3 separate regions of the Homo sapiens genome follow, and regions 1 and 3 are each linked to region 2. The links come from fine-mapping of genetic effects on gene expression. A gene starts in region 2. Each other region holds a variant in brackets. All regions are shown on one strand. Distances are between the middles of the regions. Region 1 overlaps MLC1 (modulator of VRAC current 1). Region 2 holds the start of MLC1 (modulator of VRAC current 1). Region 3 holds the start of ACR (acrosin).

The links. PIP is the estimated chance that this variant, and not a neighbour inherited with it, causes the effect. A credible set is the group of variants that fine-mapping cannot tell apart.
Region 1: its variant is the best candidate, but not a certain one, in a credible set for the expression of MLC1 in whole blood (INTERVAL, PIP 0.71).
Region 3: its variant is the best candidate, but not a certain one, in a credible set for the expression of MLC1 in CD4 T cells (BLUEPRINT, PIP 0.71).

Annotation. Positions count from the first base shown.
Region 1 is chr22:50,059,604-50,069,514 of GRCh38, reverse strand. It overlaps MLC1 (modulator of VRAC current 1), which reads left to right. Exons shown (of 12, transcript NM_015166.4): 10 at 960-1,082; 11 at 5,317-5,481; 12 at 7,858-9,911. The coding sequence ends at 7,932. Among named protein-coding and RNA genes, the nearest start is that of TTLL8, 6.3 kb to the right of the region's middle. The variant G/A (reference allele first, on the strand shown) is at 4,945.
Region 2 is chr22:50,080,436-50,090,264 of GRCh38, reverse strand. It overlaps MLC1 (modulator of VRAC current 1), which reads left to right and starts at 4,839. Exons shown (of 12, transcript NM_015166.4): 1 at 4,839-4,910; 2 at 5,304-5,539; 3 at 7,092-7,181. The coding sequence starts at 5,363. It overlaps MOV10L1 (Mov10 like RNA helicase 1), which reads right to left and starts at 259. Exons shown (of 27, transcript NM_018995.3): 1 at 80-259. The coding sequence starts at 176. RefSeq lists an enhancer at 4,567-5,191 and a silencer at 6,911-7,205.
Region 3 is chr22:50,730,792-50,740,443 of GRCh38, reverse strand. SHANK3 (SH3 and multiple ankyrin repeat domains 3) reads right to left here. Exons shown (of 25, transcript NM_001372044.2): 25 at 7,232-9,652. The coding sequence ends at 9,132. ACR (acrosin) reads right to left here and starts at 2,240. Exons shown (of 5, transcript NM_001097.3): 1 at 2,132-2,240; 2 at 970-1,173; 3 at 467-750. The coding sequence starts at 2,208. LOC105373100 (a long non-coding RNA gene) reads left to right here and starts at 2,275. Exons shown (of 2, transcript NR_134637.1): 1 at 2,275-3,054; 2 at 3,340-4,615. RefSeq lists an enhancer at 1-743. The variant A/G (reference allele first, on the strand shown) is at 5,330.

The sequences.
Region 1 (9,911 bases), 21 kb after region 2:
GCCACCACACCCGCTTAGTTTTTGTATCTTTAGTAGAGATGGGGGTTTCACCATGTTGGCCAGGCTGGTCTCGAACTCGTGACCTCAGGTGATCCGCCCTCCTCGGCCTCCCAAAGTGCTTGGATTACAGATGTGAGCCACCTTGCCTAGATGGTAAGTATTTCAAAACTTGTGGCACTGTGCTGTGAATGAAAAGGCAGGCTGCTCATGCCTGTAATCTCAGCACTTTGGGAGGCCAAGGTGGGTGGATCACAAGGTCAGGAGTTGAAGACCAGCCTGACAATATGGTGAAACCCTGTCTCTACTAAAAATACAAAACAATTAGCCAGGTGTGGTGGCGCATGTCTGTAATCCCAGCTACTCAAGAGGCCGAGGCGGGAGAATTGCTTGAACCCAGGAGGCAGAGGTTGCAGTGATCAGAGATTGTGCCACCGCACTCCTGCCTGGGCTACACAGCTAGGCTGCCTCTCAAAAAAGAAAGAAAGGCAGGCCGGGCGCGGTGGCTCATGCCTGTAATCACAGCACTTTGGGAGGCCGAGGTGGGTGGATCACCTGAGGTCAGGAGTTCAAGACCAGCCTGACCAACGTGGCAAAACACGGTCTCTACTAAAAATACAAAAATTAGCTGGGTGTGGTGGCGGGCGCCTGTAATCCCAGCTACTCGGGAGGCTGAGGCAGGAGAATCACTTGAACCCGGGAGGCGGAGGTTACAGTGAGCCAAGATCATGCCACTGCATTCCAGCCTGGCGACACAGCGAGACTTGTCTCAAAAAAAAAAAAAAAAAAAAAGAAAAAGAAAAAAGAAAAGGCAGAGGTTTCAGCAGGAGTCATGCAGGGAACCAGCTTGGGACTATGCCCATGAGTGCCCGGCCATGCCCGCCCCCCCAGCCCTGGCCACGCCCGCTGTCCTGGGCTCCCAGGCTCCGGCCGTGGTCCTGCAACCCGCGCTTTTTTTCCAGGTGGAGGTCCTGATTGCCATAAGCAGCCTCACGTCTCCGCTGCTGTTCACAGCCTCTGGATATCTGTCATTCAGCATCATGAGAATCGTGGAGATGTTTAAGGATTACCCGCCAGCCATAAAAGTGAGTTGTATTTTATTTCAGAGCCCCCCAGACATGTGGTGCTCTGCGTGTTGGCCTGGCCCTTGCTGGCTTTGCCTGGGACTCTGGGGGCGCTGGCTCCAGGGACAGCTCCAGGAGGCACCTCCTCCGCTGTTCCTGGGCAGCGGTGACCGTGCTCCCCAATGCCAGCCTGGCCCCAGGGCCTCGGGGCCTCGATTCCGCCCTGTATCTGGGGCCACCACCTGCTTCACAGGGACCTGGGACCCACTCTGTCCCTGAGCCCATTTTAGAATCTGTCCTGGGTTTATGAGACATGCTTTTCGGATTTGCATCAGAACTGCATTGAGTTTAACAGGTGAATTTAAGGAGAATTCAAAGTCCTGTTACTTTGAGCTGACCCAGTAGGAGCTTATCTCCAACACGACTTCTGAGGCTCAGGCACGTGTAGCTAGATGTATTTCTTAGATACCTAGTGTTTTTTTGTTTTTTTGTTTTTTTTTTTCCAGTATAAGTGGTTTTGCACCCAAATCATTAGAAGACCTGTATTAAGCTGTTTGCTCCAGGTCAACATGCGTGTGCTGATGGGGAATGGAGTCACTGCCTGATGGGGGGATGGAGTCACTGTCTGATGGGGGATGGAGTCACTGTCTGATGGGGGATGGAGTCACTGTCTGATGGGGGATGGAGTCACTGTCTGATGGATGGATGGAGTCACTGTCTGATGGATGGATGGAGTCACTGTCTGATGGAGGATGGGGTCACTGCCTGATGGGGGATGGAGTCACTGTCTGATGGGGGATGGAGTCACTGTCTGATGGGGGATGGAGTCACTGATGGGGGATGGAGTCACTGCCTGACGGGGGATGGAGTCACTGCCTGACGGGGGGATGGAGTCACTGCCTGATGGGGGGATGGAGTCACTGCCTGACAGGGGGATGGAGTCACTGCCTGACAGGGGATAGAGTCACTGCCTGATGGGGGGATGGAGTCACTGCCTGACGGGGGATGGAGTCACTGCCTGACAGGGGATAGAGTCACTGCCTGACGGGGGATGGAGTCACTGTCTGACGGGGGATGGAGTCACTGTCTGACGGGGGATGGAGTCACTGTCTAATGGGGTAATGGAGTCACTGTCTGATGGGGGATGGAGTCACTGTCTGATGGGGGCATGGAGTCACTGTCTGAAGGGGGATAGCGTCCTCGGCCTCCCACAGGTGCTGGGATTACAGGAGTGAGCTACAACACCCGGCCCAGGGTTTTTTCTTCACTTCTCTTGTGTTTGCTTCACCCACTCCTACTCCAATTATTTTGTTTCCTGTGACATTTAATATATCTCCTACTTCATGTTGTCTTACAATATGCATATAATTGTTCACGATTACAAGAGACAATATTACCACCCAGGGGCCATCTCCTGAGTGAGCCTGAGGCTTCCCTTTTATCTTCAGCATGCATTCTGCTAGCAGGGGACGGCCACACGCCATCGAAGTCGGCCCCTTTCTGTGTGGGGTTATCCTCTGGGTTCGATACCCCATTAAGTTTAATGGCCTCTGGTTGTATTCCATTTTAGGGCTTGGTGCTTTTTTTCTTTTTAAAATGGTATTTTTTGAATATATAAAATATTTATGTGGTTCAAAAGCCAAACTATAAAAGACGAGCTCAGAAAAGCTGTGGTCTCATGCCTGACTGACCTGCTCCTCTTATGGGCAACCAGATGATAATTTTTTTTTCTTTCTTACAAAATAGCTTGTATACTAGAATCACTATTCTGTACCTTGCCATTTTTTTTTTTTTAAGATAGAGTCTCACTCTGTCTCCCAGGCTGGAGTGCAGTGGCACAGTCTTGGCTCACTGCAACCTCTGCCTCCTGGGTTCAAGTGATTCTCCTGCCTCAGCCTCCGGAGCATCTGGGATTACAGGCATATGCCAACACACCCGGCTAATTTTTGTACTTTTAGCAGAGACAGGGTTTCACTATGTTGGCCAGGCTGGTCTTGAACTCCTGACCTTAAGTGATCTGCCTGTCTCGGCCTCCCAAAGTGCTAGGATTACAGACGTGAGCCACCGTGCCCAGCCATATACCTCGCTTTTTAGTTATGTATTTATTTATTTTATTTTTCAGAGACAGGGTCTCACTCTGTTGCCCGGGCTGGTCATGAGCTCCTGGGCTGAAGCGATCCGCCCACCTTGGCCTCCCGAAGTGCTGGGATTACAGACGTGAGCCACTGTGCCCAGCCATGTACCTCGCTTTTTAATTATGTATTTACTTATTTTATTTTTCAGAGACAGGGTCTCACTCTGTCGCCTGAGCTGGTCATGAGCTCCTGGGCTCAAGCGATCCGCCCACCTTGGCCTCCCAAAGTGCTGGGATGAGGAGGCTTCTGCCACCGTGCCCAGCCCCTTGCTTGTTTTTTTAAACTTAATAATTTATCCTGGTGTTTTCTCGATACCCAAGGGGATCAGAGCTCTTCTGAATTCCTTCATCGCTCCTGACTGCCCGGTCAACCCAGCCAGTCCCTAGTGATGGAAACTGAGTTATTTCCAACCGTCTGCTACTATAAATAACTCCTCCGTGAACAACCTGCACGCATCTTCCTTTTGAATCCTCAGCGCATCTTTAGGATATCCAGCTAGGAGAGAGACTGCTGGGTAGAGGGTAGGTGCAGCTGTCATGCTGATAAATCTCGGCGACCTCCTCAATGGGGGCCGTCCACCTTCCCTCCTGCCAATGGCGTGAAGGTGCTCACTTCTCCACAGCCCCCCACAGAGGGTGTCACGCTGGAGTTCGGTGACACGGGTGGGAGCACCTCCGTCTCAATGTGGGTGAGGACGAGGACCTCTTACAAAGCATGAGGACGTCTGCATTGCTTTTTCAGTGGACTCTGCTCATGTCTCCTGACCATTTTCCGCTAACCCTGGTGCCGGGGGAGACCAGCTCCATCTGTGATGGAGGATACAAATGGTGGTCTCAGCCTGGCGGCTATTTCTTGTTCTGCTTGTTGTGATTTTTGTTATGTGAAAGCTATTTTTTTAAATAGTTAAGTTGATTAATATTTTCTTTAATGGCTCTGGATTTTTTTTTTTTGAGACTGAGGAAAGCATAGGCTTTGCAATAAATGGTGTCTCAACAACCGAAGAGCAAAGACCACATGGGGCCCATGCCTTTACCATCCTCCAGGGTAAACTCCAGCTGGGAACACAAGTACCAGACTTTCTAATAATTACTTAAAATCCAGGCCGGGCGTAGTGGCACATGCCTGTAATCCCAGCAGTTTGGGAGGCCGAAGCAGGCAGATCACCTGAGGTTAGGAGACCAGCCTGGCTAACATGGTGAAACCCCGTCTCTACTAAAACTACGAAAATTAGCTGGGCGTGGTGGCGGGTACCTGTAATCCCAGCTACTGGCGAGGTTGAGGCAGGAGAATCGCTTGAACCTGGGATGTAGAGGTTGCAGCGAGCCGAGATCGCGCCACTGCACGCCAGCCTGGGTGACAGAGGGAGACTGTCGCAAAAAAAAGTTTTATGTTAACTTGAGAAGAGCTGTTCGTTCTGTTTCTTCTCTTACTTTTTGTAGCAGTGACATTGGATAGATGTTTGGCTCTTTTGTGTGTTAACATTTAGTTGCTTTGTTTTTCTTGAGCCAACACGGGAAAGCTATCCATGGGCACAGAGGGTTTTGGGTGCTCCGTGGTCACTCTCTGGCCCCCTGCATCCTCGGCCGCTCCCTCCATCCTCTTCCCTGCCGAGCTCACCGCGCTGCCTCCTGCCCCTTCCTTCCTAGCAGCTGGTGCTCAGGGGTGAAGCTGTTGGGGGTCTGTGCACCCCATCCCCCCAGGACGGCTGCCCCCTGTCTCCTCCGCTCAGGATCCTGCTGACACGGAAC[G/A]GTCAGCGCTTCTGCCTCCCGCGGACATTCTCTCTGGCTCTGGGACTGAGCCTTGCGCGTGTTGGAGCAGGAGGGGTGGAGCGACTTGACCACTAGCAGCCAGCACTGTCCACGGGGCCTGGCAGTGGCTCGGTCACTTTTATTCCTGTATGTTGAACACAAGCTGATGGAATTTAAAGCAGAATTGACCTCATTAATTGAGCTAGAATGATTATCATCAGGTTGTTGAAATAGCAATGCGTTTGGGTTACTGGGGCTCCGACTCGAGCCCTGGCACCTGCTCTTTGTGAAGGCCGTGGGCACGAGGGAGCTTTGGTCTCCTGGGCTGGAGGGCGGCTGGGCCACTCTGCTCACACCTCCTTCCGCCTGCAGCCATCCTACGATGTGCTGCTGCTGCTGCTGCTGCTAGTGCTCCTGCTGCAGGCCGGCCTCAACACGGGCACCGCCATCCAGTGCGTGCGCTTCAAGGTCAGTGCAAGGCTGCAGGGTGCATCCTGGGACACCCAGAACGGCCCGCAGGAGCGCCTGGCTGGGGAGGTGAGTGGCCTGCAGGGGGAGGGGGCACTGGGGAGGTGAGTGGCCCACGGGGGTGCCCAGCCAGGGAGGTGAGAAGCCTGTGGGGTGGGGGGAAGCTGGGGAGGTGAGTGGCCCACAGGGGTGCCCAGCCGGGGAGGTGAGTGGCCTGCAGGGGGAGGGGGTGCTGGGGAGGTGAGTAGCCCACAGGGGTGCCCAGCCGGGGAGGTGAGTGGCCTGCGGTGCAGGTGCTGGGGAGGTGAGTGGCCCATGGGGGGCCCAGCCAGGGAGGTGAGAAGCCTGTGGGGTGGGGGCACTGGGGAGGTGAGTGGCCCACAGGGGTGCTCAGCCAGGGAGGTGAGAGGCCTGTGGGTTTCAGGGGTGCTGGGGAGGTGAGTGGCCCACAGGAGCACCCGCTGGGGAGGTGAGAGGCCTGCGGTGGGGGCTCCTGTCCTGGTGAGGGCCTCCGAGGGCCACACGACGTGGCCCTCGAAGATTCATTGTGCCACTTTGTATTTTTAAAAACACCCCAGAAAAACCCCGAAGAAGTAAAATGTCTTTCTTTTCTTTTTTTTTTTTTTTTTTGAGAAGGAGTCTCAGTCTGTCACCCAGACTGGAGTGCAGTGGCGCGATCACGGCTCACCACAACCTCCGCCTCCTGGGTTCAAGCAATTCTCCTGCCTCAGCCTCCCGAGTAGCTGGGACTACAGGCACCCGCCACCAAGCCCAGCTAATTTTTCTATTTTTAGTAGAGATGGGGTTTCACTATGTTGGTTAGACTGGTCTCGAACTCCTGACCTCATGATCCGCCTGCCTTGGCCTCCCAAAGTGCTGGAATTACAGGCGTGAGCCACCGCGCCCAGCCGTAAAATGTCTTTTAAAAATACAAACACAAAGCCTGGGTAAACCCAGACCCATCCCTGGGAAATATTCTGGACTTAATGCTTTCAGATTTGCTCTTAGAGACACAGAAGAGGGCTTTGTGAGGACTCCCACAGGTCCTGAAGTTTCCTTCCCTGGTCTCTGGTGGGGACGCGGTTCTGCAGGGAAGGCAATGCCCACCCAGCCTGGCACATGGGGCTCCGTAAAGCTGGGGTGTCAACAACTTCTGGCTGTCACTGCCTGAACAATGTTCCCCCGGGCCCTGCCTACTGTCTTGCTGCCCCCACATCTGAAAGGCAGAGGCTCAGCGTCTTCCCCCCACCGAGCTACGGGTCCTGGTGGTGCTCCCCTGGGCAAACCTGCCCGCTGACCCTCAGGTGCAGTGACCACTAGGACTGTCACCTTGATGCCCAAACACCTGGGCAGCCACTCAGCGGGGCTCTGAGTCCTGCCCCACCTCTAGGCCATCCTGGGCGGACCGGCCGCTGCTCTTGCCCTGCACACCCTGCCCTCCTGTGTTCAGCACACCACCGGCCTCAGAACCTTGGTGCAGAGCCTCCAGTGCCCGCTAAGTCCCGGAGGACGCTCTCTTGCCCTTGGCTCGTTTCTCAGCTGACCCCGTCGCCCCCACCCTCCACCCTCCCTACTGCTGTTCCCTTAACCTGCCTCCTCAGTTGCTTTGCTGCCATTTTTCCTGGCTGTGGTCAGTCTCCCTGCTAGGACGGCAGTCCCTGGGCCTGAAATGAGACCCGCCTGGGTTTCTGTTGTGACCAGCAAGGCCCAGAGTCAGACGCATGAGGTGTTCTCCCCAGATCCCAGAACTGCTGGTCCCAGGGGCTCAGGGTGGGCGGCTGGGGCTCAGGGTGGGCGGCTGGGGCTCAGGATGGACGGCTGGGGCTCAAGGTGGGTGGCTTGGGCTCAGGGTGGGCGGTTGGGGCTCAGGGTGGGCGGCTGGGGCTCAGGGTGGACGGCTGGGGCTCAGGGTGGATGGCTGGGGCTTAGGGTGGACGGCTGGGGCCCAGGGGCTCAGGGTGGGTGGCTGGGGCTCAGGGTGGACAACTGGGGCTCAGGGTGGACAGCTGGGGCTCAGGGTGGACAACTGGGGCTCAGGGTGGACAGCTGGGGCTGGCGCTGTCCTCCCTTTTGCCTGGAGGCATCTGGTTACCTCTGCCTTAAGTGTTTTCTTCCTCAGCCGTCAGGCACATGCCCAACCTTGGGCGGCCTCCCCCCGCTCCCCGCCCCAGAGCCAGGGCAAGGGGCCGAGTGAAGGGCTGCTCCATCCCAGGCTCGGTAGAAACCGTGTGTGCGGGGGGGGATGCAGGCGTTTCTGGGACACTGAGGAAGTGAAGGCTTTTATCTCTTTCCACAGAGGCCCAGGGGTTAGTTTCCCCACTTCCTTCACATTCGAAGAAAACTTCTGAACGCTGGCTGCTCGCTGCCTGTGGCCGAGTGGCGTGTCCACCTTCCCGCCGCACAGGTGGCCCTGGTGAAGTAACACCTTTCCTGTCTCGGTTGCAGGTGGCCAGGAGCCCCCTGAAGGAGTTCGACAAGGAGAAAGCCTGGAGAGCCGTCGTGGTGCAAATGGCCCAGTGACCCCCAGACGCGGAAACCGGGTGGCAGCGCCCAGCCTGGCCCCAAGCATGGAAACGCACAACCCCTAATCGCCCTGAGCTACTGCTTCTAACACCTCTTTTCCCTTGTGTGAGGGCAAACCAGGCTGCAGGTGGGGTTTTCACTTCCTAGGGTAGTTTAATTTTAAAATAGGCCAATGTTGGCTAGTCTGTGCCTCAGTGAGATCAGTCAGCTCCGAGTGGCTCCCGTGTCGTAACAGCAGGAGCATGGCCGCAACTTCCCAGGCCGAGGAAGGGCCCCCGGCTCGGCCTCTTGAGAGCCCCACCCCTGAACTGGCCCCAGCTCCTCTTCCTGCCTCTCTCATGGCTTGGGCTGGAGTGGGCTCTCTGGACCTGACCAGACTGTGGGTCCCTGCGTCTCCTGCCCACTCTGACCGGGCTTCCTCCCTCCACGCTTAGGGTCTGTCCCGGGTACTCAGTCAGCCCAGTGGGATCTTACCCACTTCCCTGCAAGGTGCACCTGCCCCAGGCTCAGGCTGCCCAGCGGCTCTTCCTGGACAGTGAGAGCAGGGCTGGGCGCCTCTGTCCTGGCCCGGGAGCCGCAGGGGCCCCTCCTCCAGAGCCTGGGCGCAAGCGACACAGGCTGCCGCTGCTCTCCCAGGTGAAATCCACACCAGTCCACGCCGGGTCGCCTGCCCTGTCTCCCTACTTAGACCCAGTCATTCTAGAGGGATCCACCGCCACACTGGCCGGCCCACGTCCTGGGTGCTGTCATGCCCAGCTTGGAGTGCCACGTGGCCGCTGCCCACGTCCCGGGCACTGTCATGCCCAGCTTGGAGTGCCACATGGCCGCTGCCCACGTCCCGGGCACTGTCATGCCCAGCTTGGAGTGCCACGTGGCCGCTGCTGTGACAGGCAGTGTTCTTGGGGGTGGGGCTGCATCCAAGGCTTTGTAAACCGGCTGGACCACGTCTCCCTGGCCCCAGTGACCGGGGGAAGCTGAGCCCCTCCCTCCTGTGTTTGCTCCCATTACTCAAAATGCAGGACAGATCAGGTCAGAGCCCAGGAATTCTCACAGGTTCACCCAGCGCCCTCTACCTCCTAGCAAGTACTTTGTCTTGATCCTCACTGAGAAGGCCCCAGGGCAGCGGTCTTCTCCATCTCCGCTGTTTTGGGGTCTTAGGGTACAGCCCAGGCGGTCACTGCCCACCTGCCAGGCTGCAGGGACAGTTGGGTGTGAGAATAACACTGGCTTTGGGTAGTGCCATGGCCAGGAGTGGGTTTCCCTGCGTCTCCTCGTCCCGAGGGCGCCTGGGTCCTCCCAGCTGACGGCAGTAAATCCACAGTGAGTTGGGGCGACTGTGAAACTGGAATGCTGTTACTTTGATAATTACTTTCCAGCAGGTGTTTTCCTTCACAATGGTTTTGTTTCTTTCCTTCTGATCTGAGAAGACATGAACGTTTTCTCTTCACCGCCGTGGGGTGTATTGACTGGTCCCCCATGGGCTGCTGGAAAGGCCCGGAGATGCATCTGTGGCCTGGGGCCATCAAGATCAAAGAACCAGGAGGCCTGGGAGATGCAGCTGGATGGGGCGGCCTGCAGACCCTGCCAGGGGGTTTGAGGACCCTCCCAGGTTTCCCACTGCGGAACAGGAGTGACTCTGGCTGCCAAGATACCTTCATGGTGTTCATGACAAGTGGAATCATTATTTTCAACCATTGAAGGGGGATGCAGGCAAGACACCTTCCCAGCTGCTCCTAGAGGGGACAAGCCAGGCCCTCTCTGCAGTCCTCGGCAGCTCCGGAAGGACACAGTCAGGGGCCGGGCAAACACTTTGGCCACAGCCCCAAACAAGCGCCACCGTGGGAGAGGAGAGGCTGCTGTCACTGGTACCGGATGCAGACCCCACCCTGTCTGCAGGCCACCCCCACCTCCCTGCAGCTTTGAGGCTGGCGGGGTCTGCTCCTGGGAATGGGGTGGGAGCCACAGGGACGACCCGG
Region 2 (9,829 bases):
AAGACCTATGGGCGCGGCTCCCTCGTGGCCGACACGCGAGGGCCCGGGACCCGCCTCCCAGCCGCCTCCCGCGAGCCACCTTCCGCGAGCTCGGGCTCCAGCTGCCCGGCTTCCTCCCTAGGGGTGTCCGCCGTCCTCCAGAAGAAGGCCACCAGCTTGGCTGCGAGGCTCAGCATGGCCCTCGCCCGGCCTAGGCTGCCGTCACCGCCGCTGCCGCCGCCCGCACGCGCCCGCGCCGCTCCCGCCGCCCGCCACCAATGGGGTCGCCGCGCCTGGGCATGCGCCTTGGGGTCGTTGCGCGAGCCGGGACCCGTAGCGGTCAGAGGTCGGCGGTTGGCGCCTGGCAGCTCCTGACAAGGCGAGGTGCCTGGTGGGAGTGACGTCATGCCGAGCGCGCAAGGCGGTGTGACCGCCGGGTGGGCGGGGCTTCGAGCGGGCGGGCGGGGCCTCGCGTGGGTGGGCGGAGCTTCGAGCGGGTCCGCCTTCTTGCCGCCCACACATTAGGGAAAAGTGCGCTTTCACCACCCAGAGTGATGTTAGGAGTCGTTTTTTGTTGGTGTTTTTTATCAAGTTGAGGAAGTTCCCTCTATTCCTGTTTTTCCAAGAGTTCTTATGAGTGGGTGTGAAATTTTCTGCAACGCTTTTCTGCATGTATTCAAATGATCCTGTAGCTTTTTATTTCAGCCCATAGGGAATTACATTGTTTGGCTCTCCTTGGAAAACTCACTTGGTCACGATTCGTTATCCTTTTGGTGTATTGCCTGACTCAGCTTGGTAACGCTTTGTCCAAGGTTGGGGACGGTGCTGGTGAAGCAGATTGCTCTGTGGCCGACCTCCCGTTTTCTGTGTCTGTCTGGTTTGGGGTCGGTTTAAGCCGGGCCTGCAGTGACCTGGGAGTAGGATGGGGTAACTTATTCCCTAAAAATTGTGGTAGTATTCGCTGGGGAACCCATTTGGGCTTCGAGATTTCTTTGTGGGAAGGTTTTTAATGAGAAATTCACTTCTGCATCAGCTAGAGGGCTATTCAAGTTATCAAGGTAATATTGAATAAACTTTGGTAATTCTTTTAAGGAATTTGTCCATTTCATCCAATTATTAGATGTCAGATTATTGGCATAAAGTTGTTCAGCATATTTCCTTATTATCCTTTTAACGTCTGTATGGTCCATAATGATGAGCCATCTTTCATTCTTGACATAGGTAATTTATCTCATCCCTCTCATTTTCCTTGATCAGTCTATATTTATCAATTTTATTGAGTTTTTAAAAAAAATCATCCCTTGATTTCATTGATTTTTCTCTATTTTAAAAATATCTTTACACTTTGCGAGGCCAAGGTGAGCAGATCACTTGAGGTCAGGAGTTCGAGACCAGCCTGGTCAACCTGCCAAAATCCTGTCTCTACAAAAAAATACAAAAAAAATTAGCCAGGCATGGTGGCGCATGCCTGTAATCCCAACTACTTGGGAGGCTGAAGCAGAAGAATCACTTGAACCCAGGAGGTGGAGGTTGCAGTGAGCTGAGATCACACCACTACACTCCAGCCTGGGAGACAGAGCAAGACTCTGCCTCAAAACAAAAACAAAAACAAAATACGTATATATATCTTTACTATTCCAGTGGTTTCTGTTTTTTATTATTTCTTTTTTTTTTTTTTTGAGATGGAGTCCTGCTCCGTCGCCCAGGCTGGAATGCAGTGGCATGATCTTAGCTCACTGTAGCCTCCACCTCCCGGGTTCAAGTGATTCTCCTGCCTCAGCCTCCAGAGCAGCTGGGATTACAGGCGTGCGCCACCACGCTGGCTTTTTTTTTTTTTTTTTTTTTTTTTTTTTTTTGTATTTTTAGTAGCGACAAGGTTTTACCATGTTGGTCAGGCTGGTCTCGAACTTCTGACCCGCAGGTGATCCACCCGCCTTGGCCTCCCGAGTGCTGGGATTACAGGTGTGAGCCACTGCGCCCAGCCCCGACTTATTTTTGATTGACATAGCTTTATTTTCCTAGGTCAGATCTGTCAGTCTGATGACAGCCTGGACCTTGCCTGTCCATGGATGCAGAGTGTACTGATAGTTCTTGCTGTGGGAAGGGAGAGAGTGGCGCACTCCCTAGCATTTCAAATCCCCGCTAAGCCTGTGTCTTGGGCTGGGTGCTGGAACACATACAGGAGCCAGCAGGGTCCCAGGGACCTACTGGTTGGTGGGAGATTAGCTTGGAAACAAGAGCGAGCTGCATGAGGGCTGGTGGCTCATGGGCTCCCTGCCAGGGCAGCTCGCAGCGGGTGCTGTGCCTGCAGGGCTGCCCCTCAGCTCCCCAGCTCGGGCCACTCCCTGGGATTCTGGACTCAGTAGACCCGGCAGATGCCCACAGACATCTCGGCCTCATCATGTCCAGAATGGAACTCCAGATCCTCGCTCCACACCTGCTCCACCCTGGTCTTCTCATCTCTGTCCTCACTGCTCAGACAGAACTCAGCAACGTCGCCCTGACAGCAGATTGCGTCCGCTCTTCAAACCCTGTTCAGAGCCCAGTCCCTCCTCACCACTTGCCCACTGCCACCTCAATGCCAGGCAGCACCTGCTCCTCCCACCCCCCAGCCTGCTCTCCACCCAGTGAGTGACCGGATGCTGCTCTGCCCAGACCCCTCCAGCAGGTCTGTCTCAGAGTTGAAGCAGAGTCGTCTCCATACCCACAGGTGCTGGCACCTGGCTGTCCTACCTGTATCCCCCTTGCATGGTCCTCGCCTGCCTTCCCCAACCTGTGGCCTTTGCTTCAACTCTGCCAGCCTCCCCTCCCTGCCTCCTTCTCACTGAGGCCTGCCCTGGCCCCTGCAAACAGCAGCCCCTCATTTCTCTCCCCTGACTTCTTTTCCCTCATAGAGGAAATCATGTGTGTCACTGGATGCATTAGTCTGTTCTCACGCTGCTATAAGGACATACCCAAGACTGGGTAATTTTAGAGTCAAGTCCTTATAAAGGAAAGAGCTTTAATTGACTCACAGTTCCACAGGGCTGAGGAGGCCTCAGGAAACTTACAATCATGGTGGAAGGGGAAGCAAACATGTCCTTCTTCACAAGGTGGCAGGAAGGAGAAGTCTTGAGCAAAAGCGGGGAAAGCCCCTTATAAAAGACCATCAGATCTCATAAGACCTCACTCATTGTCAGGAGAACAGCAGCATGGGGGTAACCACCCCCATGATTCAATTACCTCCCACCGGGCCCCTTCCACGACATGTAGGAATTATGGGAATTACAATTCAAGATGAGATTTGAGTGGGGACACAGCCAAACCATATCACTGTATAACACACTAATTTGTTTATCCTGTGCACTCCTGTGCCCCCAATGAATGTAAACAGCCTATAGGAAGGACGTCACTTCTTTGTCCACCCCATAAATGTTTGTTGAATGTTGAATGATGATGGGACATCAGCAGGCAGAGGGATGAAGGGCATTTTAGGAGCAAGAATTTGTTGGAAGATTGTATGAAAGAACAGGGCCTGTTCTAGAAACTAGTGTTGCCAACAGAAACTTGGGAGCATTTCTCAAGTGATGACTTATGATCTGGGAAGCTGAGGGATTTGCTCTGCAACCTCTGGTTCAGGGCAGCTTGTTTGTATTTCTAAGTGGAGAGCAACTTTTGAAAGAAAAAAATGTTGAAATCCGATTAACATTTTTTTCCAAACAAAAAGAAACACAGGAGGATTCGATCCAGTTGGACCCACTCCCACTAATCCCGTTTATCGCTTTAAAAGATAGTGAAGTTTGGGAGGTTTCTCAATCCATTAAAATGAGTTCTTGACTTCACAGATTATAGTTTTTGAAAATTATTTCTCATCCTTGCTTGATTGAAATGAAGACAACAGAACATTGGCTGTGGTGGCTGGCACAAAATTAACTAACCCTAAAATACTAGTATAGCTTAAACTTTCGTTTATTGCTAAAAATTTATCACTGCTGTTTCCTGTGGGGGTGAGGTTGAGCAAAGTGTTTTGAGCTGCATTTATGCGTACTTGACACTTACGCATTTTGATCGAGGTGATTTAGTGGGCATTTTCACTGGGACAGGGATGCTTGTATGTGTAATCTTACTAAAAGCTAATAAAAACTTACTAAAAGCTAATAAAAGCTTACTAAAAGCTTCTTGCTTGATTGAAACGAAGACAACAGAACATCCCATGGTCTGGAACCTGATGACTTTGCTCAAGTTTTAATGTGGGTTCATGGTTTAAGGAGCTGGTTTTTCAGAAACTTTAGTTTGAGCCTTTTTACAATGTGCACAAAGAACCCGTTGCTGTAGTTGTCAGGGTGCCAGTGTCTCTGGGCGACACACATTACTGTGGTTTTTCTCTGCTTGGTGAGCAGAGATAAAGGGGGCAGCAGGACCGGGCCCACCAGCCATCCGGGCTGCCCACGCAAACCACAGGGCCGAATCCGGAGCCGCCCAAGGCCACACAGCTAAGCCGAGTGCGTGAATGCTTATGTGACCGTGTGAAGGAGGTTCCCACCGTGTGGCTGTGGGGGATGGAAAAAGGCTACTTGGAAAGATGTAGAAGACCTTCGAGTAAACAGTTACGTTTCAGAAACAGAGCCTGCTCAGAATGTGTACTTGGTGGGATTCTATTCTTAGGGACGCTTCTTTCTTCTGAGAGACCCGAGCTCTGTGGCGAGTGGCACAGGCAGGGCCCCTTCCTTTCCTAGTTGGGTTCTGACAGCTCCGAGGCAGTGGTTTACACAACCAACACGAAACATTTCTACGATCCACCCGATTCCTCCCCTCATTGATATTCAGGAAGCAGCTCTCCTTCCCCTGCCTTCAGCTCAAGTTTGCTGAGCTTTTGTTTCATTTGTGAATACTTCTTGCTGGAAGTCCCTCACCCAGAGACCAGTGCTCCCAACGGCAGAGCAGCGGGGGAGGTAAGTGCTCAGACATTAAGCCGTTGAGTAGAGGCATGTTTTGCAATCTCTCGTTTAGCTACCAATTGGAGCAGTTTAACGTGCTTGAGTCCCCGGCGTGATGTGTTCATGGACGAAGTTGCCGATGGATGTTGTCAGGTGTTGCACCTGGAGGGCCCAGATGGATCAATGAGGCATTTAAAGTGTAGAATCTCACCCTGAACCCAGACTATTCAGGTCCGTTTTTCTAGGAAAGTTATTTCTTTTTCACTTTTAGATTCAAGTGCTCATTTTCTTCTTCAAATTTAGAGCACTTCAGTATGAACAATATTTCTTTTGTTAAAAAATATTTCTTGGAAACAACTTATTGAAGTTTCCTCAGAGTGGCCAAAGCCGATGATAATTTTATTCCAGATAAAGAACTGGTGACACGTGGCTGTACATTCAGCACAGCTGTGGTGTCCCCAAGTGCCATGACCCAGGAGCCATTCAGAGAGGAGCTGGCCTATGACCGGATGCCCACGCTGGAGCGGGGCCGGCAAGACCCCGCCAGCTATGCCCCAGACGCGAAGCCGAGCGACCTGCAGCTGTCGAAGAGACTGCCCCCCTGCTTCAGCCACAAGACGTGGGTCTTCTCTGTGCTGATGGGGGTGAGTAGCTCCACACTAAGCCCTTGGAGGGCCACGAGCATCTGGTCCCTCTGGTGACGGACTGCAGCGCCCTGGAGCCCCAGGTGGGACAGAGAGAGCAACTCTCAGACTAACCCTGCTGCTGCAGAACTCTTGGATGCCGACGAGCTTGTTTTGCTTGTGTTTTCACAATTATTTTTATTAATTTATGGGTGTCTGTTGTGCCAGCCTTGAGCTGCTCCAGGTTGTGGCTTAGTCCCACCAGGGTAGGGACAGTCCCAGGGCCATGAATGGGCCCCAGGAGTCTCCATGACCCTCGGCTCTGGGGGCCCAGGGTCCTCTGAGGGGTCACCTGCAAAGGTGGGAGGAGGCGTCTCAGGCCTTCAGGTCGGCCCTCACAGAGAGAACCTCAGGGACCTCCTCCTCCTAGGGAGGGCCTCAGGGGCCGGCTGGGAGGGAGCTGGGGAACAAAGGAACAGGTCTGGGGTGGACGGGCAGCGCCAGATGTCCGAGGGATTTCCCTGGGGTCCTGGCCATTCCCTGCACAGTCGTGGGCACAGAGATGATTGGAGGAGCCACTTGGGCCTGAGTGTGTGCAGCTGCTCAGAGCCATGCTGCAGGACAGGCCTCTATGCAGGGACCCCCGGTTCCGTGTAGCTTGGGCTGAGAATGAGATCCAGGCTGTGATTTCTCCCCTCCCTGTGCCCTGGCCTCCGCCGGCAGCCCCTGCAGCACCCACAGTGGTCCTGCCCACCTCCCGTGGCCTGAGCATGCCCCACCAAGACAGGCGTCTGCCTCGGAGCTGGGGACAGAGGCGGCTCCCGGGTGGTGGTGGCCATCTCCGGGCTCTGCCCTCCTCCACCTGGTGCCCTGGACTTGGTCGCAGCCCCTCCCCCGCCCAGGCCAGATCCCCTCTGCCCCAGACCTCGCTTCCTCTGCCAGGACCCTGGGTCCCAGTGACCTTTGATACTGACTCCCCTCAGACTCACCCCGGGGGTGCTGTGCGTGAGAGAGAGCCCCCTCCCCACCGCACCCCTGCAGTGCTGTGCGTGAGAGAGAGCACCCTCCCTGCCTCCTGCTAGGGTCTTCCCTGCTCAGGAGCCCCTGGGCCTGGAGCCCCTGCCTGGAGGGATCTTCTTCCAGATCTGGAAATTAGGTTCTGCAGACGGAGGGGGATGGGCAGTTGTTTTCCAGTCTCGTGTCTGGACCTGGGTGTGGGATCTGGAAGACTGCACGCACAACATGTTGGGGCAGGAGTATTTTGTGGGGAGAGGTGCCATTCCTTGCTCTAAATATTGGCAGATCCCCTTTCTTCTCTCCTCCAGATAACAGCGTGGGGGGTCCATGCTCCGACATGGCTGGGGGAGGCTGGTCCATGTCCTGGGCTGCGGCGGGGCTGCGTCTGTCCTACAGGAGGAGTCCAGGATGGGCGGGTCCCAGGTGCGGGTGTGGTTGATGCTGGGGGACGTGGGTGAGTCACCAATACACAGACAGTGAAGCAGAAGTTGAAGGGTCAGGGTCCAGCCTGGGGACGGGGCGCGTTGTAACCTGGGATTCTGTCGCTGTCTTGCAGAGCTGCCTCCTGGTGACCTCGGGGTTTTCGCTGTACCTGGGGAACGTGTTCCCGGCTGAGATGGATTACTTGCGCTGTGCTGCAGGCTCTGTAAGCAGCTTCCTCCACGCCTCTGCCAGTGCCCAAGCTCGCCGGCACGTGCTCTGGTTTCTTTGTTCTGAGATGTGCAGGTTTCTGTCACCTGTACCTCATTCAAACCTCTTCATATGGGCCGGGCACAGTGGCTCATGGCTGTCATGCCAGCACTTTGAGGGGTGGAGGTGGGTGGATCACCTGAGGTCAGGTGTTTGAGACCAGTCTGACCAACATGGACAAACCCCATCTCTACTAAAAATACAAAAATTAGCTGGGCGCGGTGGTGGGTGCCTGTACTCCCAGCTACTCAGGAGGCTGAGGCAGGAGAATCGCTTGAACCTGGGAGGCGGAGGTTGCAGTGAGCCCAGATTGTGCCACTGCACTCCAGCCTGGGCAATGAGAGTGAAACTTCGTCTCAAAACAACAACAACAAGAAAAAAACAAAAAACTCTTCATATGACTTTAGTTTCACGTAGAGTTCATCACCTTTGAGAATTACTGATGAAGCAGGCCTGAACCTTGCTCTGCAGACGCCTGTGCAGGGAATTGCGTGTTGATTCTGAGCCTGCGGCTGCGTCCTGCCAGAGCTGGCAGCATCTGCCCTCAGGGGACTGGGACCTGTGCCCCACATCCTCCCAAAGCTTCATGTTGTGTTTTTAGAAACTTACACAGTGCCAAGGCCGGTGGAGGCACCCACTGATCCTCAGAGCAAGGGAGGACAGACAACCGCTGTCCCCTGGTCCTCTGTGAACCCCGGCCACTGCCTCCCCAGCGTCCCGGCAGCTAGAGCACCATGCTGGCTGACCCCTGGGCTCTGGCCCGCAAGCCATGGACCCCATGCCCCTCTGGCCCGCAAGCCGCGCACCCCATGCCCCTCTGGCCCGCAAGCCGCGGACCCCATGCCCCTCTGGCCCGCAAGCCGCGGACCCCACGCCCCTCCTGCTTCAGCTGGTCCCGAGCTCTCCCCTCCTCTCGCTTCCACATGCCTGCTGGGTCTCTGGCCCCTGCCCTTTCTCTAGGGACACTGTTGGTGACTGTCCCCAGCAGCGCCCCCGAAATGTCTTAAAAACAAAGTGGATGCCCCGCCCCGTGCTGTCCTGGGTCTCTGCTCCCTTAGAACAAAGCCCTTTGGGGCAGGTGACCCGTCCCACTCTGCTGCCCTCTCTGGAAGCTTCTCCGTGGCCTTTATCCTCACCATGGGAGCCGCCCTTGTCCCAGTGGAGCTGTGAGCTGTGCCCCTTCAGCCTCAGCGGCTGCCGGATATGGGCAAGTGCCCACCCCCGCCCAGCCTTGGCCCCACTCGGCCCTGCCCCCGGCCTTTCTTCTCTACCCTGGGCCCTCGTGGCACCTGAGTGGGTGCTGAGCTGAGCCTGGCTGTCCTGGCCCTAGCTCTGCCCCTCGCTCAGGCCCCGACGGGGCTTCTTCTGCCTCCTCACCCAGCACTGCTGTGCTCAGCCCCTCAGGGCCTGCACCCCCGACTCAGGGCCCGGGGTCCCATGGCTGCAGGAGCAAGGCCCTGCACGGCAAGGGCCACAGGCCTGGGCTGGCCCGACTCCATCCACCTCCCTGTCCCTGACGTCCCAACCTCCCTCCCTGGCCCTGGACTCCTAGCCTTGGTGTGGCCCTGTGGGGACAAGAAGGCTGAGGACAAGAAGGCTGTGGGACTCCTTTCTGCCTCCCTCACATGCAGAGTCTTGCTACTTCCTTTGCTCCTTCCTTCCTCTTTCTTTCTTTCTTTTTTTCTTTCTTTCTTTCTTTGACGGAGTCTTGCTCTGTCACACAGGCTGGAGTGCAATGGCGCCGTCTCTGCTCACTGCAACCTCCACCTCCTGGGTTCAAGCAATTCTCCTGCCTCAGCCTCCTGAGTAGCTGGGACTACAGGCACCCGCCACCACGCCCAGCTAATTTTTTTTGTATTTTTAGTAGAGATGGGGTTTCACTATGTTGGCCAGGCTGGTCTCAAACTCCTGACTCTGATCCACCCGCCTCAGCCTCCCAAAGTACTGGGATTACAGGTGTGAGCCACTGCACCAGACCTCCTCTTTCTTTCTTTCTTTCTTTCTTTCTTTCTTTCTTTCTTTCTTTCTTTTTTTGAGACAAGGTCTCACTCTATCACCGAGTATTCACAGCTCACTGCAGCCTCGAACTCCTGGGCTCAAGAGATCCTCCCAGCTCAGCCTCCGGAGTAGTTGGGACTAGAGGTGTGAGCCACTGCACCCGGCTGATACTTTTTCCTTTTTTGGGTAATTTTCAGCAAAGACCAGGTCTTGTGCCTGCGTGAGTTACATTCTAGGCTTCAAAGCTTATCCAGCTAGAAGAGCCTTCATTAACAAATATCTTTTTAGCACATCAGAAAAATAAAAACTTCTTTCAGAATAAATTATTTTGAAGTACCTGGGGGTTGGGCGCAGCGGCTCATGCCTGTAATCGCAGGGCTTTGGGAAGCTGAGGTGAACAGATCATTTGAGCCCAAAGTTAAGATCAGCTTGGGCAACAGAGTGAGACCCCATCTCAAGAAAAAATTAAAACTGAGAAGTACCTGGGGGCCTTCTAGTCAAGCCAACCCACTGTGTTGCATGGACTGGCAACACTGTTTTGTGAATATGATTCAGATCCTTCTGGAAGCGCAAATGTTAGAGTATTTCAGAGTCTCAGTTGCTCAG
Region 3 (9,652 bases), 650 kb before region 2:
CTGGAATCACAGGTGTTAGGAAATGGTCAGCTTGGAGACCATCTGATCCAGCCCCTCCATTTACAGATGAGGAAACCAAGGCCCAGAGAGTGGAAGGCACTGTCATACGGCCACATAACCTTATCTGGAGCTCTTCTCCAAAGGCTGTTTCAGGGTTGCTGCTTGTTTCCAGGATCCAGCAGCTTGGGCCCCAGGTGCCAAATACAGACACAGCCTCAACCCCATTCTAAGCAACGCTGCGCTCTGCCTGCACCTGCTGTCAGCCCCCCCGTAGACAGCCAGACGAGTCACCCATCACGTGACCTGGCACAGGGGACTGTGGAAGGCCACAGTGATGGCTCTACGTGTAGCGCCGTGAGGAGGATGAAAGCAGCCTGGCTGGGTGTCAACAAGTGACCGCTGCACCTCAAAGACCACCAGGAGAATGGCCAGCAGCGTCCCCCCTTGGAGGCGCTCCCATACTCACCTTTCTCTTCTATATATCCCCAGCCGGCCACCCAGCAGCTCTGGGAGCCTCTGGGGAGGCCTGCCTTAAAGTGGGGCAGGCAGCCCGGCCCAATGAAGCGCCCACACGAAATGGGAGGGGTGATCTCCACGAGGGCAATGTCATTTCCCTCTGTCGCAGAGTTGTATTTTTCATGAATGATGATTTTCTCCACATATCTCTCTTGCAGAGGCGCCTTTACTGGTTTATTGTTCCCATATGTAATTTCCTTTGCTCCGAAAACCAGTCTCCAGTCATGCACATTACTGTGGGCACAAAGGTAAGCCAGGTCACAACCGGCTGGACAAAAGCCTGGTGACAGCGACCCTCAGGGCCTTCCCCTAGCAAAGGTCTGGACCAGCCCCCGGAGTCTTGCAGCCACTTGGCCCAGAGCCCCAGGGAGACGCTGCACAGCATCCCCGGGGAACGCCCCTCTCTGAGAAGAGCCGTTCTGAAGACCTCCCTCAGTGCATCCCTACACGTACTTTTTGCCGACGAAGCAGTGAGCAGCAGTGAGCACCCATCGTGAATTCAGCAAGCTGCCTCCACATGTGTGGTACCTGTGGCTGTTGTACGTGAAGATCTGGAGGCTGACCATCCAGGGCCAGGCCCCATGCTGTGCAGCCTTCCCGCCGACGATGCGGACACCACCCTGTGGGTTTTGCCTGAACCGTAACCCACAGGGGCCACTGGGGAGAGACCAGAGCACAGTTCAAACCTGGCATGAGCACAGCCTGTCCTTGTAACTCCACAACTGAGGGGAGGCAGGGACATGGGGTTGGGAAAAGTGGGGAAGAGCTTCCGGGTTCTGGGAAAGCAGGGGCAGCCTGCGCTATGTAGGAAGCCGCAGGCTCTAGGAAATGGTTCTGGGGCCACGACTTCTCAGGTCTTGTGGGTGCAGTCACAGATGGAGAAAGAGGAGGCCATAGGAAGCCAGGACAGGCTGCATGGGCCCTGAGGGATGGCCCGTCCCTGGGCAGAACAGGAGGGTAGAGGTGGGGATGCGGGGCCTGGGGACAGAGGGGTGTAATGGCCTGAGGTCCTTATAACCAATCTTGGGTGGGAGACTCAGGGAAGTCAGGTGATGAAGGGGGTCGTTGACAGTGATGGGAGGAGGGATAGCAGCCAGGGGCAGATACTGTGGCCCACAGGTGTAGGGGGCACACTGAGAGCAGTGGAGGTCTAGAGGTGGAGGCTCTGGGAACTGTGTCACGGGTGGGAGGCCACATATAGCTTGGGAGGTGTTGGTATTTCGGGGTACCTTGGAGTGAGAGAGCCTACTGGGGGGTAGGGGTGCAAGCGGTGTGAAGCGATGATATCCTGGGGCTGTTGGGGGCAACCACGGGTTGGGACAGCTGTCTGTGGGGGGATAAGGGCTCCCAAAATCAGGACTTCATGTCTTCAAGACAGTGGGGTCAGTCCCTGGGGGAGTGGGAGAGGCACAAGGAGCCTGAGGTGCTGAGGGGTCCATCTCTGGAGGAAACCACGAAAGCTGAGGGTCTGGGGGCTCCAGGCTGCTGATTCTGGGAGCAGGGGGGGTCCAGGTTAGGGATGCAGCCTCCTTTTCCCTAGCCCTGGACAGAGGGAGTCGGGGTGGTACCTGCTCCTCAGAAGATCCTTCCCCCACCAAGGTGCCCCGACACTTACTCACACGTGGCGTTATCTTTAGCAACCACGGACACTGCCAAGACCAGCAGAATGGCAGTTGGTAGCATCTCAACCATACTCCTGGCACTGCCTGGCCTGCAAGCCTAGTGACCTCACAAAGCTCCGTGGCTGCCTGGCCAATCAGCAGGGGTGACCCCCACCCCACCCCCAGCAGTCAGGCCAGGTAAGAGCCCCTCGCCTTAACTGGTTTGTGCTGAAGAGACTTCTTGACTTCCTGCATAGGCTCCCCCACCACCAGGATGATGGGGGACTCCTGTGCAGCCCCACTCCCTCTGTCCCAAGGCCAGGATCTCCATTCCCAGTAACTCTTGCGAGGTCCCCACATCACCCAAGGCTCTGGCTTTGTGCAGGTTCAGAGTCTGCCTCTCATGCGTGCTGTGACCACTGCAGACTCACAGACTGAGGAGCGGCTCAGCCCTTCAGTGATGAGACGGTGCAACATGTTTGTGGATCAGAGGAGTCAGGGTCAGCAGATTAATTGATCCTTAATTGTTGTTGGGGAAGTTTTCTTTTCCTCTTCCAAGTGAATGCTATCAACACACTTTTCCAAGAGTCATTTTGAATTTTCCTAATTTACAACTGCAAAGCCCACCTTCCTGTCCGTTGCTGAATATCACAAGGTCTCCTATTATCCTGAATGTCTCCAGATCGGCTTTCTGTGACTGAGGTGGAGCAAGGTGTTTTCTCCTATACTTGAATGTCAAGAGTTTTCATACAGCTACCTGAATATCATGAAGCATCATTTTTCCCATCTGATCATCAGGAACTAGCATCTCACCTACCAGAGTGTGACAAATGCTTATTGCAAACACCTGAATGTTAAAACATTTCCCATCGCCTGCAAGTGTCAGGAGGTCACACTCTTACCTGCATGAGGGCAGCCTTACCTCTTCTACCTGAATGTAAGATCTCAACCAGCCCGAGGGTCAATAGGTTGCACATCATCTAAGTGGGTGTCAGAAGGTCCCATGCCTCCAACCTGAGTGTCAGGACATCTCATCTCCTATTCCTGAGTGTTGAGTTTTCAGATTATCAGATGATCTTGATTTATCTATTTTCTCTAACTGAATGTCGTACTTATGACATCCTCAAATGAATGTTCAATAGGTCTCGTATATCTTACCCAGTATCAGGGAGTGATCACCTCCTTCTTTGAAAGAAATAACAACTCTGTTTTTCCACTTCAGTGCCAGAGGCCCTCATCGCCTCCACCTACAGGTTAAGAATTCTCACCTCCACCACCCAAGTGTCACCCTGTCGCACTTTCTCTACCTGAAAATCAAGAGGTCTTACATCTTCCAGCTGAATGTCAAGAGGTTGTATTTTACCTATATGAATGTTCTGAAGTCTCCACCGGTATACCAGAGTGTTGGGAGATCTCATTGCCCCCATCTGGGTGCCAGGGCATGTCCTACCCTCTACTTGAATATAGTCTCATATCCCTGTCTAAATGGCATGGAGCTTTCATCTCCTCTGCTAGAGTATCATGAGATCTCCTCTATTCTGGGTGTCCAAAGTTCTCATCTCAACCCCCTGAGGTCTGGAGGTATTCTCACCTCTTCCTGGTTGTCTGGAGGTCTCATCTCCCTTACCTGAGAGTCATGAAACCTCCTATCTCCTATATGCCCTATCTAAGTCATGACACTTTATCTCCTCCGAGTGTCAGGGGATTTTTCTACCTTTATGTCAGGTAGCCCCACTTCCTCTAGCTGAAGGGCATACAAGTTCTATTTCGTGACTTGAATGTGAATAGGTTTCAGCTGCACTACTGAGTGTTAGCGGACCTCACTTATTTTAACTGAGCATCAAGTTGTGTCTCATAAATAACCAGAAAAAGACTTTGGAAATATGGTTCAAGAAATGGCAAGAAGAATTGAAGAAGTGGGCCCAAGTGCAGAGGCTCATGCCTGTAATCCCAGCACTTTGAGAGGGTGAGGCAGGCAGATCACTTGAGCTCAGGAGCCCCAGACCAGCCTGGGCAACACGGCAAAACCCCGTCTGTACAAAAAATACAAAAATTAGCCAGGTGCAGTGGCACCTGCATCCCAGCTACTCAGAAAGCTGAGGCAGGAGAATCATTTGAACCCAGAAGGCAGAAGTTGCAGTGAGCCGAGATCGCACCATTGCACTCAAGCTTGGGCAATGGGAGTGAAACCCTGTCTCAAAAAAAAAAAAGAAGAAGATTAAAGTTTTGACTGTTAAAGAAAATATTATTCGGGTGTTTTTAATGGATAGCACCTATTTCTTTACAAATATTTAGGAGGTATCAATAAAAAAGTCTGAAGACCCAATGTCAGTGTCTGGATTCTAGAAGACCATTACAGTTTGACTCCGCAAAGCTTACCCACTTCTGATTCTAGAAGGGGCTGCCAGTCATCGTGCCTGCCCGTGGCTATAGTGATGGTTGCGGGAAAAGTACCTGGCCCGGCCCATTTAATTTTGTCATTAAACTAATGGAAGCAACAAACATCTCAACTCAGAGTGACTTTGTCTGACCTTCTTCATGCTGTTCTAAGAGCGAAGGAGAAATGGGTGACAGGTCTGGGGCCAGAGGGTGGGGTCCCATCCGAGGGCATGGCTCAGGCTGAGGCAGAGTGCTCAGCACAGGGGGCAGGATGGGGGCTCCCCATCTCCCCTCAAACTCCTCCCTGCTCTCTGCTTCCACCCTGACCCCCAGGCACCCCTCCAGCTCATCCCAGCCATTCTCGCTGCTCCTGCTCACCCCAACCACCCGCTGCCTTCGCCAGCCGTGCCCACTTCTGTCCCCATGCCTTATTTACCTGGGCAATCCAACTCCCACCCCAGTTTTTCTCACCCTGATCTCCAATCCCTTCCAGCCCCCAATCCCCTACTTTTCCATTCCTGTCCCCACCACCCTCCGTGAGGAGCAGAAACCTTATCCAACCATCCTCAATGTCCAGCCAGCCAGGAAGGCAAGAAGATCCCAGAGGGAGTAAGAATGGTTGACGCAGTGAAACCTTGAGGGCCGAAAAGGGGTAGGTTTCAGGTCTTCACCCAGGGGAAGCAGGTGCCTCGGGGGTGGTTTAAGCAAGCAGGTGAGGGTCTGGGTGGCGCCATGGAGAAGGACGAAGGCCCTTTGAGGCTATGGTTGATGACAGCTTGAAAACCAGCCTCAGGCTGGGCAAGGTGGCCCACACCTGTCATCGAAGCACTTTG[A/G]AAGGCTAAGGAGGGTGGAGTTCTAGACCAGCCTGGGCAGCAAAATGAGGCCCCCATCTCATAAAAAATAAAAAAAAAATTAGTCAGGTGTGATGGCCCACGCTTGCAGTCCCAGCTACTTGGGAGGCTGAGGCAGGAGGATCGCTCAATTCCAGGAGGTTGAGGCTACAGTGAGCCACGATCATGCCCCTGCACTCCAGCCTGGGTGACAGGGTGAGACCTTGTCTCAAAACAAAACAAAAGCAGCCTCCATGTCCTGGCCCTGCCCCAAAGTTGTCCACAGGTCTTGGGAGTGGCTGGGGGGTGCCAGCCCACAGGAAGAGCAGAGGCCACACAATTTCAAATTTTCAACATTTCCTAATCCTCATCTTATTTTCAGATTAGAAACTGAGGCCATCATAAGGAAAGGGCTGCACGGGAAGTCAAGGAGGGGGGCCCTGCAAGGGTCTGAGTGTGGGAGCAGGGGGCCCCTGACTCGCTCTGGGCCTGAGTGTGTGGAATCGGGAGGGTGGGTCTCCCTGGGCTGCACATGGAGCCCTAGGCCTCCATGGGGACTCAGAGTCTGGGGCTAGTGGCACTTCTCCACGGTGCCACCGGCCCCACCCCTGGCTAAGGTTAACCACAGAGCCAAGGTATGCGATTGTCATTCTGTCATATTCACGCGCCTCCTCAACCCAGTGTGTCCAGGCTCTGAAACCACTGCCCCTCCTGTAAGCAACCCTCCCCACCGGGGACGTCACATCTCTGCAGCCCCTGGCCTCAGTGCTGGGTCCTGTGCCCTCTACTTTCTCACGGCTCCCTCTTGATTGCCTTTGCCCACTTGCCTTACTGTTTGCCCTTCAAGACATAGCTCACCACCTCCTTCCACTCAGCGAGGGGTCTCTGTCCCTCCTGTTGGCTGGCCACCCCCACCAGGTGCCACCCAGGACGTGTCTTTTTTGCCACATTATCGGCTGCTCACATGACTGCCTGTGCGCTCCTGAAGGACAATGTCTTGTCTCTGGTGCTCAGGGTGGGAGCAAAAAGGAAACCTCACATCCAACTGGGCAGACAACCCAAGGTGAGAAGCACCAACTTGCTCTAATTTGAGATAGCACCAGGGCCGTGCAGACGCAGAGCCTAACATCTAACTGGGACTCCAGGGAGGGCGGGTCAGAGAAAACGTCCTGGAAGACAGGATCCGGAGATCAGCCTCCAAGCTATGTATGCTTGATGCAGGCAAACGATGGGTGATCCAGGCAGAAGGAAGAGGGCATGTGTGAGACAGAGCCCTGAAGCGTCATAGCGGCTCAGGGATTGCAGGAGGTGGGGGGAGACTGGCGAGCAGCATGTGTGCATGGGGAGGGAGCAGGGGATGCTGGCAGGGCCACGGCAGCACTGGCTGGGCCGGACTGGCTCACGGGGTCCATCCATCAGCTGCATTTACAGACAGGCTGGTGTTTGTCAGCAGAGGGCAGAAATGGAAACAGAAAACCAGTGAATCAGCAGGGAAGGAGTGAGGGCTAAATCTGGTCTGCAGCCGTGGGGTAGGACAGTTGCGAGAGATGCGAGCGGGTTCCAAGACAGGAGCAGCAGAATTTAAAAGCAACCGGACGCTGGCGGGAGCAAGTCTTAAACCCTAGGCTTAAAACCTGGCAGGGGTCATGGAGGACAAGTGGCCTCCAGCTTAGGAGGTGCTACTCAGTGGGTTGGTGAACAGAGAAAAGCTTTCGGTGCAGAAGGCATGGGCTGAGTTCCAGCAGACTCGGAGAAGATGCTGGAAGATGCCAGGTGCCTAGGCATGGAGGTCAAAGATAGGGATCTAGGAGTCACCCGTGCATGTGGTCCAGGCTGAGGAGGTTTGTGTGGCCGGTATGAGGGACAGACACAAATATCCCCTCAAGCAGGCAACTGAGCCATGGCTTCATTTCTTATAAATTTATTACATAATAATATTATAATAATTATTATCAATAATAATAATATAAGAAACATAGATCTCTGTGGGGCGTATCACAACGTCAGGGTCAGGAGGCCTCAGGACTGGAGCAGGGGGTGAAACCCCCCGGATGGAACTCCATACAAAAGGAGGTGAAGCGGAACTGACCCTGTAAAGTTAAAAACCCAAATTGAACGGAACCAAAACCCACAGGTGAGTGTGAGACCGAGTGTGTATGTGGCAGTCTGTTACAGTGACTGCTGCTGTGTGACCTGGACTGTTGGCGGAAGGATGAGTGGGTGTGACTCTGTGCCCAGGGAGTGGGGCCGGTGGGCCAGGGCGGGGCGGGCAGGCACAGACCGGCGTGCCAGGCCCCTGGGTTGTGAAAACTTCTGTTTTCTTTTTTTTTTTATTTTATTAAAAAAAGCTAGAAATATAAACAGAAACTTGTGAGTGACGTGGATGGAGCTTAGTCCAGACTCCAAACCCTAGGTTTAAAAACGTCCCAGGGCCCCCCACCCCACAGGTCATCGCTGAGTGTGAGGAGTCACAGTGTGGGGGGCTGGGCACCCTCGGGGGTCTTTGACTCTCCCCAGGGCCTGTGGTGAACTGACTCTAGGGGTCCCCCTATGATGCCCTCAGAAGCCCAAGGTGGGGGCGCTGCCTCCAAGGGGCCCTTGGGGCCTCCCCAAGCAGCAGGGATTCACCAGGGAACCCCGCTCAGGCTGGGTGAGGCTCTGGAAGGACAGGCTGGGCAAACAGCTGGACCCAGGGTGCAGGATGGCCTCTGACTTTCTTTGGAAGAGGAGACAGGGTGCTCTCACAGGTACACCCCACGCATGCACACGGTGCACGCCTCCACGGCCCCGCGCTAGTCCAGAGCGGCCCCTGGTGGCCACTCAGTAATCAGGCACACACACGGCTCCCACGTGCTCAGACGCACCCAGTTTCACCCACACACATAAAGGGCAGGACAGGAGACTTTGGGGTCCAAGGCAGGGAGGCTTCTCTGCTGTAGTTGCCCAAGAGCATGGGGACCAAGCTAGCCCCCTCCTTGGGGAGAGACCCTGTGAGGAAGATGGCTGCGGTGGAGCGGCAGGGCCCTGCCCTCATCCCCCCCGGCCGATGGTCTCCCAGGCCGGCTGGTCCCGCGGGTGCACAGCAGGACCCGCGGCCTGCCGCCCCTCCCACCACGAGCAGCACCTGAAGGGTCGGTGGGGCACACTAGAGCTCAGCGAGGCGAGGGGCCGAGCTGGGGCCCCAGGGCGGGCCACTAGGGCCCTGGCCAACCCCAGACCAGCTGGAGCGTCCCCTGCCCCGTTGTGGGGTGGCAGTGGCAGTGAGGGGCCGGAGATGGAAGACTGGGCAGCTGCAGTGGGACCAGTGGAAGTAGAAGGGAGGGGAGAGGAAACTATTACGGACAGAGATATTTGTTCCTTTTCTCGTTCCAAATATAGAGTGGATTAAAATATGCAAAACAGGGGGGCTCCTTGGCCCCCATCGAGAATCCCAATGTCTCCCCCCTCCCCCCGAGTCACCAAGGCGGGTCCTGACCTCGCATGCTGGACTAGGTTCCCCCTCTGGGAGAATGGCCACCAGGAGCTGCGAAGGAGGTGGTCACGCTAGGGCACCCCACCCCCGGCACCTCCCGCCCCAGCCTCCCTGGTCCACGCCCTTCCTGACTGTGCGCTGGGTGGGCTGGGCGGCCGGTGAGGGCACTAAGCAATGTACAGGGCGAGTCTCCGAGCAACAGCAAACAGGACGATTCATGCAACATTCCTGGCCCGGGCGCCGTCGTAAGGGGCAGGCCGAGCCCGCGGCCCGGGGTGGGGGTGGGGGGCCCTGCCGGCAGGGCACGGCCGGGGCGGGAGTGGGGGTGGGGCGTCAGCTGCCGTCCAGCTGCCTGAGCGCGCGCTCGATGTTCATGCGGTGGCCCACGCGCGTGACGCCCAGCTCCACGAAGTCGTCCTTGGTAAGCGCGGGTAGGTGCGCGCCTTCTATCTCATGGTCCTCGAAGCGGTCGCGGTGCTCGCCTAGGTGGATGCTCTCCAGCCAGTCGCCCACGTCGAACTTGCTCCAGAGCTGCAGCGGCTTCTGCTGGAAGGGTCGGCGTGGGCCGGGGGCGCCGGGGCCGGGGCCGGACGCGGGCGAGGGCAGCGGCGACGGCGAGGGGGAGCGACTGCGCGCGCTCACGCTGCGCACCACGAAGCGCACCTCCTTGGGCTCGTGCGGGATGGAGAGGCTGGACGACTTGAGGATGGTGGGGGGCGTGAGGCCGAAGGGCCGCCCTGCGCCCCCCGCGCCCGCCCCCAGCCCCTCCACCCGCTCCAGCGACGCGGGCTTCACCGGGCTCGGGGCGCGTCTCGCCACGGGGTAGCGGCCACTGGGCCTCACCGAGTACGAGG